2 separate regions of the Homo sapiens genome follow, and region 1 is linked to region 2. Evidence: fine-mapped expression QTL. A gene starts in region 2. The other region holds a variant in brackets. All regions are shown on one strand. Distances are from middle to middle. Region 1 holds the start of PRICKLE3 (prickle planar cell polarity protein 3). Region 2 holds the start of MAGIX (MAGI family member, X-linked).

Evidence for each region. PIP is the estimated chance that this variant, and not a neighbour inherited with it, causes the effect.
Region 1: its variant is the best candidate, but not a certain one, in a credible set for the expression of MAGIX in spleen (GTEx, PIP 0.66).

The regions. Positions count from the first base shown.
Region 1 is chrX:49,184,654-49,190,019 of GRCh38, forward strand. PRICKLE3 (prickle planar cell polarity protein 3) reads right to left here and starts at 1,720. Exons shown (of 9, transcript NM_006150.5): 1 at 1,603-1,720; 2 at 1-57. The coding sequence starts at 1,644. It overlaps SYP (synaptophysin), which reads right to left. Exons shown (of 7, transcript NM_003179.3): 7 at 3,162-4,629. RefSeq lists cis regulatory regions at 1-119, 1,479-2,019 and a silencer at 1,713-1,842. The variant C/T (reference allele first, on the strand shown) is at 2,311.
Region 2 is chrX:49,159,987-49,165,308 of GRCh38, forward strand. MAGIX (MAGI family member, X-linked) reads left to right here and starts at 2,772. Exons shown (of 6, transcript NM_024859.4): 1 at 2,772-2,952; 2 at 3,797-3,943; 3 at 4,721-4,803; 4 at 4,877-5,104; 5 at 5,204-5,322. The coding sequence starts at 2,904. RefSeq lists a silencer at 3,751-3,860 and a cis regulatory region at 3,961-4,461.

The sequences.
Region 1 (5,366 bases), 25 kb after region 2:
CTGCTCCCTACAGGAGTTGCAGGGCTGGCCCCGGTCTGGGTCCTCTGCCTCTGGAGGCTGCAGTGGGCGGGGGCAGATGCAGGGCCGGGTGAGGCGCGGAAGCAGGGAAGGAGAAGTCAACGCCCGCCCCTCCACTTCATTGCCCGCGACCGCACGCTGGGGCCTGTCTTACCTGGGCAGCGCTGGGCAGGCTGGGACAGCGCCCAGAGTGCGGGGGAGCGGGACACAACCGAGGCAGAGGCGGGGCAGTTGGAGCCACCTCCTTATATGTCCCCTTTTCAGGGAATTCCCCTTCCTAGGCTGGCCTCGGACCCCCCTCCCCGTCCGCCCCTAGCCTCAGACACCTCCCACCAGCCTTAGATCCTTCCAGGGCTCAAGCACCTCCCCTATAATTCATTGTACTCTCCCCACTAGAGCACAGAACCCCTACTCTGGGCATCCTCTCCCCGGCCTCATCCCGGTTCCCTCTCCATCTACGCCGCCAGCAGCACTCCAGTTCCACAGGGTAGGAGACGAGACCGCATTCTTCCTTGAGATCCCCACGTGAACCCTGCCCCTCTCTTCAGAAGCTCAGGAGCTCCTCCCCTAAACCCTGGCCTCATGCCCTGATACCCAAGGAACTGGGGACCCTCCCCAGGATCTCAGGAGGCCCCTGCTCCATTCAGAAACCCCCATCCCAAGAAACCTTGGCCTTTACCCATCCCATCCTAGGGCTATTTATTCCTTCTCCGGACCATCAAACCCAGACCCCACATTCCCAGGTCAGAGACCCACTCCAAAGGAAGTGAAAGAACCTCCTATCTAAGAAGTCAAAAACTCCCTTGCTCAGGCGGAACCCTGGAAGCCTTGTCCCCCCAAATCCCAGTCTCTTGACTCTCAGCATTTCGGCATCCCAGGAGTGTAGGACTCCATCCCTCCGTGCACATTCCTCCAAGGTACTGTGTCCTTTAGAAGCTGAGGAGGTCGGCCAGGCTCGGTGGCTCACGCCTATAATCCCAGCACTTTGGGAGGCCGAGGTGGGCGGATCACCTGAGGTCAGGAGTTCGAGACCAGCCTGGCCAACATGGTGAAACCTTGTCTCTACTAAAAATACAAAAATTAGGCGGGCGCGGTGGCGGGCGTCTGTAATCCCAGGTACATGGGAGGCTGAAGCAGGAGAATCGCTTGAACCCAGGAGGCGGAGGTTGCAGTGAGCGGAGATAGCGCCACTGCACTCCAGCCTGGGTGACAGAGATTCAGTCTCAAAAAAAAAAAAAAAAAAAAAAAGCAGCAGCTCAGGAGGTTCCTGCTCAACCTAAGGCTTCAAGACCCAGTTCTCTGGCCCTCAGGATTCCCTCCCACAATTCATAAGAGAGGGGTCCCCACCAGGTCCCAGGAGTGCTGATGAAAGTGTGTGGAGAGGTGATTAGGGGGTTTGGGCCACCAGATCTACACCTTCCTCCATCCATTCGCCTCCAGCAGCCCCAGCCCCAGGTCTGGGAATGCAGGGGATGGGATTCCCAGATCCTCTGTGGGGCACCTATTCGCTATGCCTATCCATTGCCCCCTTGCCTGGGCCTCAGTTTACCCCCGACCCCCACCGCTGCCCTGACTCCCGCTCACCGCACGCCCGGAGCGGCGCCTCCGGGACCCACGCGCGAACATGGCGCGCCCGGGCAGGGTCAAGCCGGGCCGGGTCAGGCGAATGTAATCCTTGCGACCGTCAGGCCACCGCGCGTCCGGCCTGGGAACTCGGTTCCGTAAACCTGACACCCTCGTGGGAGGAGCGCGCCCCGCAGGGCCCGCCCCCGGGCATGTGGTCTCTCCGCTGCCAGGGCGCCCCCTGCCTAGAGGTGAACTGCACGTAGCCCGGAGTGCCCCGCGGGAAAGGCCTCTGCCCTCCCGCTCCGGGCCGGTGCGGGGCGTCACAAGGCACGACCCCCAGAATCCCGGCGTGCCACGTGGCCTCTCACGGGACCTGGGGCTTGAAGGTTCTGTAGTGGAGGATGGGGAGACTCAGAGGTGGCCAACTGGACTGAGAGGGGTGGCGCGCTAGGGTGCTTGTGTTGACGTTTTGTGTCGATTTATTTCGGATGCTTATTTGGGAGAGGGGTTAAAGACACCTCTTGGCTCCTCCCCACTGGTGAGGTTCCGAGGGTCTCCCCGATGAATGCTGCAACAATGGGCCCCAACCTCACCCGCAGCCCCAGCTGGTGCTCGCTGGGAACCTGGGAACCTGGCCCTAGCCACCAGAGAGCTAGATCTTATACGCACTCCTCCCTTCTCATTCCCCTCTCAGCGAGGCCAGGTTCCAAAGCCCTCGTCCCCTCT[C/T]TCCCCTCATCCTTATAAGCCTAGCTGTCCAGCCCCGTCCCCCCACCCCAAGTCTTGAGAAGTAGATCTTAAAGCCTTCCCTCCCCCACCCACATTTTTCTCTCTCCAGTTATCCCCTTCCCCAGCTCAGTTCCAGGGCGGGGAGCCTCTCCTTCACGCTCTCAGGCTTGGCTGTGCCTCCGGGCTGGGGGGAGGGGGTCCCATGGCCTCAGTCAGAACTCGGCCCGGGTCTCTATGCACGGAGACTGCAGCGGCCAGGCCCTTCATCGCGGGCCCCGGGGACCTCTCCCCGCCCCCCATTACACATGTCCCTGTCACTTCCCGTGGAGTGGAGAGGTAAAAGAGAATAACTAATGAACTAAGGAGTCACCCCGGCGCCCCACCTCCCCTCCTTGCCTAACCTGTCTCCCATTTCTCCAGCCTGGGCGGAGGCAGGGAAAGGAGAGACAGTAGGGTCTGAAGATTAGGGATGGGGTCAGGCAATGTGAGGTTTCCTCCTATTCGGACCCCTTGGGGATTTGAGGAGAGGGTTCCACAGGGGCTCGGAAGAGGCTTGGCTAAGGGACCAGAATTAGAACCAACTCCTAGAAAGACCGGGCATTTGGTGGCCAGTAGTGGGAGGGTGAGCAGGGCTACTCAGAGAGTGACAGAGTGATTGGCAGGAGAGGCTTCCCAGAGGATGCTGCTCTGCCTAACACTTTTGAAGGGGCCTGAAATGGTGCAGCAAGCTGAACTGCGGTCGGTGGGTCCGGGTGGAGCTTGTTCTCACCACCTCTCCCTCCTTTCTCCCCCGGCCAACCTCCTCCCCGGCGCCCGAAAAAGACACACTGAGAAATCAGAGCCGGGTAGACTAGGTGGTTAAGGAGTTTATTTGGGAGAGGAGAATCATATTTGTTCTTCCTTGGGGAGGGGGGTTCTTTGAACAATACCGAAGGGTTTGGGAAAGGGTAGGGGTCTGGAGGGGAGAAGGAGGGGCCACAGCCAGACAAAATGGCAACACACGATCACAGGCACTACTGACATCACAGACATAGCAGAGGGTGCAGGATAGGGGCTCCAGACCAGGCCTCCAACCACCCCAGGACGGGTGGAGGTGTGGAGGGAGGGAGGGCGCAGGGGAAGGGGGAAGAGGGGTGGGCCAGTCCCACAGACCCGTTGGTTCTGTCCTCCTATTAACCTAGCTGTTTCATCACGGGAGTGGGGAAGGGTGTGTGTGGTGGGGTGCTTCTCTCTGGATCCCACGCCTCACCCTACAAGCCATATCACTCGACTCTTCTCAGGCCACTTCCGTCCCAAGTCGTAGCCAGAGCCATTCTCCCCCACCCCTAACAAAACCCATCTGGAAGCTCCTATCCAAGTCCCCTCTCCACTGCCCAAACCCAGCCATTGTAAAACATTTTCTTCACTGCACCATGGGGAGGGGCTGCCCTTTCTGAAACCACCATGGAAGCCCCATTCTAAGCCCCACCCTGTCTGGAACCCTGGCTTGGCCCATTCCTGAATCCCACTTCTTGCCTTGCTCAAGATCTGTCCCCTTTAGAATCAAGCTCAGTCTCCCAAATGTTCCAAGCCACACCCTTTCCATAGGCTCTGGTACCAATCCAAGACCCACCTACTCTGGAGCCCACCATTCTGCCTCGCTTAAAGCCTCGCCCCTTCTAGAACCCTGCCCTCAGCGCCCTTCCAAGCCCCACCCCAGAATGCTCTAGCGCACTCCTCTCCTTCAGACTCCAGATCCACTCTGTCTGGAACCCAACCCCCCTGCTGACCCCTCCACTCCACACCTCCTCTCCAAGACCACCTTGGGTCCTAAACTGTCCTCTCTACCCCAAGCCCCCCCAATCTCTGCCTTTCTTTAACCCTGGAGTTGGATTTCCCTAACGGCCTTTGTTCAGGCAGGCATTGCTGGAGGAACCAAGGCCAGAGTTGGGAGGAGTGGAGGGAGAGAGAGGAGAGAGTCTGAAGTCACGCCCACCCTCCCCACACAGCCGAGGTCTGTTCCCTCCCTGTCCTCCTTTTAGATCCCCTTAACCTCAGGGGACAGGGAGGGTAAACAGAGAGGGGCCAAGGGATGCAGGGAAAGGGACGGGGTAAGAGAGGGGGCCCACTCAAGACTGGGCACCTAGTGGATGAGGGGAGTGGAGTGAGGGCAGGGCTCAGACAGATAAATAGATATTTATATATAATATATATATATATAAACAGCAAAGACAGGGTCTCCTGGCTTGAGGGGTGGAGACCTAGGGTATAGGGGTGGGAAGGGGGGCAGGCCTTCTCCTGAGCTCTTGCCCCCCCCAGGTCCTCCTGGGCTTCACTGACCTGTAGAGACAAAAGACACAGAAAGGAGAGGGGGTCTGACATGGGTGGCGCCCTCAGATAGGGGTTGGGCTGTTATGCCTTTGTCCTGGCTTTATGTCTTTTCTTCTTTCCTGGAGCCAGCTTCATCCCAGCTGCCTCTGCTGAGAAGATATACCTGACCTTGCCCCCACTGGGTTAGGTACCAAAGAGATTACAGTCTCCTTCCTCCAACCAAAAAAATAGTCCCTTAACAGGTACTGTTCTAGCCATTTGTGATAAACTATATTGAGCAAAACAAAGATCCCTGTCTTTGTGGAGCTTATACTGAAGCAGAGATAGACTTCACACAGCGAACATGATGCATGAGTGGATTATCTCGTATAACATAGGGTGACAATAATAAGTGAAATGGAAAAAATAAAGTGAGCTGGGCATGGTCGCTCACACTTATAGTCTCAGCTACTTGGGAGGCTGAGGTGGGAGGATCACCTGAGCCCAGGAGTTCAAGTCTAGCATTCCTAAAGTGCTAGGATTACAGGCGTGAGCTACCACGCCCAGCCTGCGACAGGGCAGAGTTCTGACACAGGAGGACTGTGGCCTAATTTAGGATTTAACAGAATCCCTCCAGATGCTGTGAGTAGAACAGAATGGAAATGGAGACCTGAGAAGAGGTCTGGGAGAGATGACAGTGGAAGATGAAGGATATATTTTTTGAAGGTAGGACCCACAGGATTTTTTGATGAATTAGATGTGGGATG
Region 2 (5,322 bases):
TAATTTAACAAAAGATTGTATTTATTTATTTATTAGAGACAAAGTCTTGCTACATTGGCTAGGCTGGTCTGAAAATTCTGGCCTTAGTGATCTTCTCACCTTGGCCTCCCAAAGTGCTGGAATTACAGGCGTGAGTCATCATGCCCAGCCTGTTTTGAGAATTTATATTTTATTTTTTTTAAAGACAGGGTCTTGCTCTGTCACTGAGGGTGGAGTGCAGTGGCATGATCACAGCTCATTGTAACCTCTAAGTCTTGGGCTTAAGTGATCCTCGTGCCTCAGCCTCCCAAGTAGCTGGGACTACAGGTGCATGCACTACACCCAGCTGTTTTAAGTTTTGAAGGGGTTGAGATATAATTGACTTCAATTTGATAGGTTTTGAATATGTTTATGTCAGTGAAACGATCACTACAGTGAAGATACTGAACAGGCTGGGTGTGGTGGCTCACCTCTGTAATCCCAGCACATTGGGAGGCAGAGGTGGGAGGATTTTTTGAAGCCAGGAGTTTAAGACCAGCCTGGACAACATAGTGAGACCCCCCCACCCCAGTCTCTACAAAAATGTAAAAAATTTGCCAGGCATTGTGGCACATATGTGTAGTCCTATCTGCTCAGGAGGATCCCTTGAGCCCAGGAGTTTGAGGTTACAATGAACTATGATTGTGCCACTGCAATCCATCCTGCATGACAGAATGTGACCCTGTCACTTAAAAAAAAAAAAAAGAAATACTGAGTATAACTATCTCTGCCAAAAGTTTTCTCCTGCCCTTTGTATTTCCTCTTTCCTGCCCTTTTGGCCCCCTCCCTCCAGGCAACCACTAATCCACTTTCTGTCACTGTATATCAGTTTGCATTTTATTAGATTTTTATATAAAAGAAATCATACAGCATGTGCTTTTTTGGAGCGTGGGTCTGGCTTGTTTTACCATAATTATTTTTGAGATTCATCCAAATCCTTCATTGTTTTTTATTGCTGAGTTGTATTACCCTGTATGTGTATACCATAGTTTGTTAATTTATTCATCTATTTTTTTCATTGAAAATTGTTTTCTTTTTGAGAGATGGGGTCTCACTATGTTGCCCAGGCTGGTCTCAAACTCCTGGGCTCAAGCAATCCTCCTGCCTCCACCTCCAGCCTCCCAAAGTGCTAGGATTACAGGCATTAGCATTTTTAAAATAGAGACAATGTTTCTATGTTTTTAAAATAGAGACAATCTTTCACTATGTTGCCAAGGCTGGTCACCAACTCCTGAGCTCAAGCGATCCTCCCACCTCAGCCTCCCAAAGTGCTGCGATTACTGGCCTCATTCAACTATTAATGGACATTTGGGTTATTTCCAGTTTTTGGATATTAACAAATATTATGGACTGAATTGTGTCCACCCATAAATATATATATATATATATATTTGTTGTTGTTGTTGTTGTTGTTTTGTTTTTTTGAGAGAAGTCTCGCTCTTATCCCCCAGGTTTGAGTGCAATGGCTCGATCTCCACTCACTGCAACCTCTGCCTCCCGGGCTCAAATGATTCTCCTGCCTCTGCCTCCCAAGTAGCTGGGATTAAGTCACCTGACACCACGCCTGGCTAATTTTTGTATATTTTAGTAGAGATGGGGTTTCACCATGTTCGCCAGGCTGGTCTTGAACTCCTGAACTCAGGTGATCCACCCGCCTTGGCCTCCCAAGGTGCTGGGATTACAGGCGTGAGCCACTGTGCCCAGCCATAAATATATATGTTAAAGCTCTAACCTCCAATGTGACTGTATCTGAAGATAGCTTCTTTAGGAGGCAACTAAGGTAAAATGAGGTCACTAAGGTGGAGCCCTAACCAGATAGGACTGTGACCTTATAAGAAACAGAAGAGAGAGATCTCTCCCTCTCTCTGTGTGTGCCTCTCTCACGCCTTTACTCTCCTTCACTCTCTTAATTCCATGTGAGGACACAGCAAGAAGGCAAGCATCTGCAACCCAAAAGGAGAGACCTCACCAGGAACCAAATTGGCTACCACCTTGATCGTGGACTTTCCGGCTTCCAGAACTGTGAGAAACTTATGTTGTTTAAACCACCCAGTCTACGATATTTTGTTACAGTAGTTCTAAATGAATAAGACAGGAAATAAAGCTGCTATGAATATTTGTAAGACAAGGCTGTGTAAATGTATGCTTTCTTTTAGATAAATACGCAGGAGTGGAATGGCTGGCTCATATGTGTACGCTTAGTTTTTAAAGACACTACCAAACTGTTTTCTAAAGTTGCAGGCCGGGCACGAGTGGCTCACGCCTGTAATCCCAGCACTTTGGGAGGCTGAGGCGGGCCTCGCCTGTAATCCCAGCACTTTAGGGAGTTCGAGACCAGCCTGACCAACATGGAGAAACCCCGTCTCTACTAAAAATACAAAATTAGGGGGGCGTGGTGGTGCATGCCTGTAATCCCAGCTACTCAGGAGGCTGAGTCAGGAGAATCACTTGAACCCGGGAGGCAGAGGTTGTAGTGAGCCGAGATCGTGCCATTGCACTTCAGCCTGGGCAACAAGAGCGAAACCCTGTCTCTAAATAAATAAATAAAGTTGCAATATCATTTTACATTTCCACCGGAGGTATAGGAGTTCCATTTCCTCCATATCTTCAGCAACAGTTGGTATTGTCAGGCTTTTAAATTCTAACTAGGACCTTTAGTTAACAGAGTGCGGCGCCTGCAGCAGAGTGAGGCCAAGCACTCCTCCTGGCTCCTACAGCCAGGCCTCCTTGCTGGCCGCCAGGTAGGTCACCGCGCGGGTCCGGGAGCCAGGCACGGGACCCGCCAGCTTCAGCCTCCAGGGCCTGGGCGGGCCGCCAGGTGAGCGCGCCCCAGAGCTCAAAATTCGTAGCTGGCAGCCCTGCGTCCACCCGGCGGACTACTGGCCATGGAGCCGCGCACAGGGGACGCCGCGGACCCTAGGGGGAGCAGAGGAGGTACAGGGATTGGGGTCGTTGGGGAAGGACAGGGCGAGTCGCCGCCATCCCCGTCCCGCCTGTCTGCTCCACACCTTTTCCTTCTGACAGGTGGTAAACAGAGCGGCTCTGGCGCCCAAGTGAAGGTGGCAGGGGGCAGGGGCCCAGCGATGGAGGCTGGGCTGGAGGTCCCCTACCCACACCCACACACGAGGGAAAGGGCCGCGCACCAGAGCAGGGGAGGGGCTCTCAGGAGTCTCCAGGGAGACGTGCAGATGTGCGGGGAGGGGTCTGCCCGTGGTCACTGGGGACACCTGGGCACTCAGGGTCTTAGTGAACTGGGGGGAGGGGAGCTGGGGGCCCCTGGGGACCTGTGGAGGGGGACTCTGGAGGTATGTGGGCCATGGGGGGAACGGGCCCTCTGAGGGAATTCATGGGGGTAGCAGCGGTTGCCTAGGATACTTAGACGGGGAATTGGGGGTTCCGGGGCTATGGGGTCAGGCCGTGTTCTCCCAGGATATCTGGGGAAATGGGGTCCCCTGAGATATCGCGGGCGAAGAGTTGGGCATCCAGGGTGATTAGGGGGCAGTCGAGGACCTCACGGGGTGTTCGGAGGTGTCTAGGACTATTGCAGTCAAACAGCGATCTCCAGGGACACCGTGGGAGCAAGCGGGGGTGCACCGGCTACCCGCGACGGTCGGGGATCGCGTGAGGGGAGGGACAGCAGTGACCTCCGAAACTATCGAGGGAGTGGCCAGGGGTCGCCGGGTATCCTGAGGGGCATTTCTAGGTCTTCGAGCGTCCGGAAGCATAGGGGTTGGCCGAGGCCGAGGGTCGGCGTTGACCTGTCCCCTCTTGCGCGCAGGCCGCGGCCCCTCCCCGCTCGCGGGCCCTAGCGCCCGGCAGCTCCTGGCGCGGTTGGACGCGCGCCCCCTGGCGGCGCGAGCTGCGGTCGACGTGGCAGCGCTGGTACGCAGGGCGGGCGCCACATTGCGCCTGCGCCGGAAGGAGGGTGAGTGACTGGCGCAGGGCCTCCGCTGGGGGAGGGTTCGGAGAGGAGTTGGGTTCAGTGGGACAGGCCTGGGGGGTCAGCAGCTACTGCCCTGTCTTGGGTGGGGCCAAGGGGCGCGACTTGGGGCGGGGATCGGAGGGTGCTTCGAGTGGGAGGAGCCTTGGGGTTATTCTAGCATATTCCTTGAGGGTTATTGCAGTCGGCGAGGGCTAGATTAGATGAGAGTGCGGAACTGGACCCCCGTTCTGGCGGCGGTCCTTTTTGAGGAGGCAGGGCCTGGAGAGTGCTTGGGGGGCGGGCACGCAGCGAAGGGGCAGGCCTGAAATGTGAGTCACGGGGGTGGAGCCTATAGTCCCATGGGGGCGGGGCTTGAGATGTCAGGAATGGGATGAGGGTTAGAGGCTAATTAGAGGGCGTGCTATGGAAGGTTCAGGAGCCAAATTTTGGAGTAGCATTCTCCAGGGTGGGCCGAATGGTGTTGTTTGAGGGATGTGTTCTGCGTGTTATTAGAGGGAGATAGGAAGGCCTGGAAGATTATTCACATGGCTGAGCCCAGGATTGTTTATTAAGAAGGTGGGGTCAGAACAGTTAATTTGTTTGGGCTGAGAACCTTTAAGATTACTTGAGGGGATGGTGCGTAAATGGTGGGCCAGTTTGTATATGAGCTGCAGGGGCAAGACAAGTAGATGAGGCTAGAATGTTAACTCAGGGAACAGGTCCTAGGTAGTTTCCATGGCATGTCCCCCAACAGCCCTCTCCACTGCTTTTATCTCCCAGCTGTTAGCGTGCTGGACTCTGCGGACATAGAGGTCACAGACAGTCGCCTGCCTCATGCCACTATTGTGGATCACCGGCCCCAGGTACCATCTCATCCTTCTATCGGAGGCCTCCTGCCTCAGGGCAAACTATGTACACCTGTGTCCTTTATTCCAGCACCGTTGGTTAGAGACATGTAACGCACCTCCCCAATTGATCCAGGGTAAGGCACGTAGTGCTCCGAAGCCATCCCAGGCCTCTGGTCATTTCTCTGTGGAGCTGGTTCGCGGTTACGCAGGCTTTGGCCTCACCTTAGGTGGGGGCCGGGATGTAGCTGGGGACACTCCGCTGGCCGTGCGCGGGCTGCTGAAGGATGGCCCAGCACAGCGCTGTGGTCGTTTGGAGGTGAGCCCTGAAGCCCCTTCCACTGGTAGGTGCTATCCCTGCCTTTGTTGGGGTGCTCTCCTTTTGCCTTTCCAACACGACTGCATTGCACTCCTCCAGGTCGGGGACCTCGTGCTCCACATCAACGGAGAGTCAACGCAGGGCCTCACCCATGCCCAGGCCGTGGAGCGGATCCGAGCTGGAGGCCCCCAGCTCCACCTGGTTATTCGTCGGCCTCT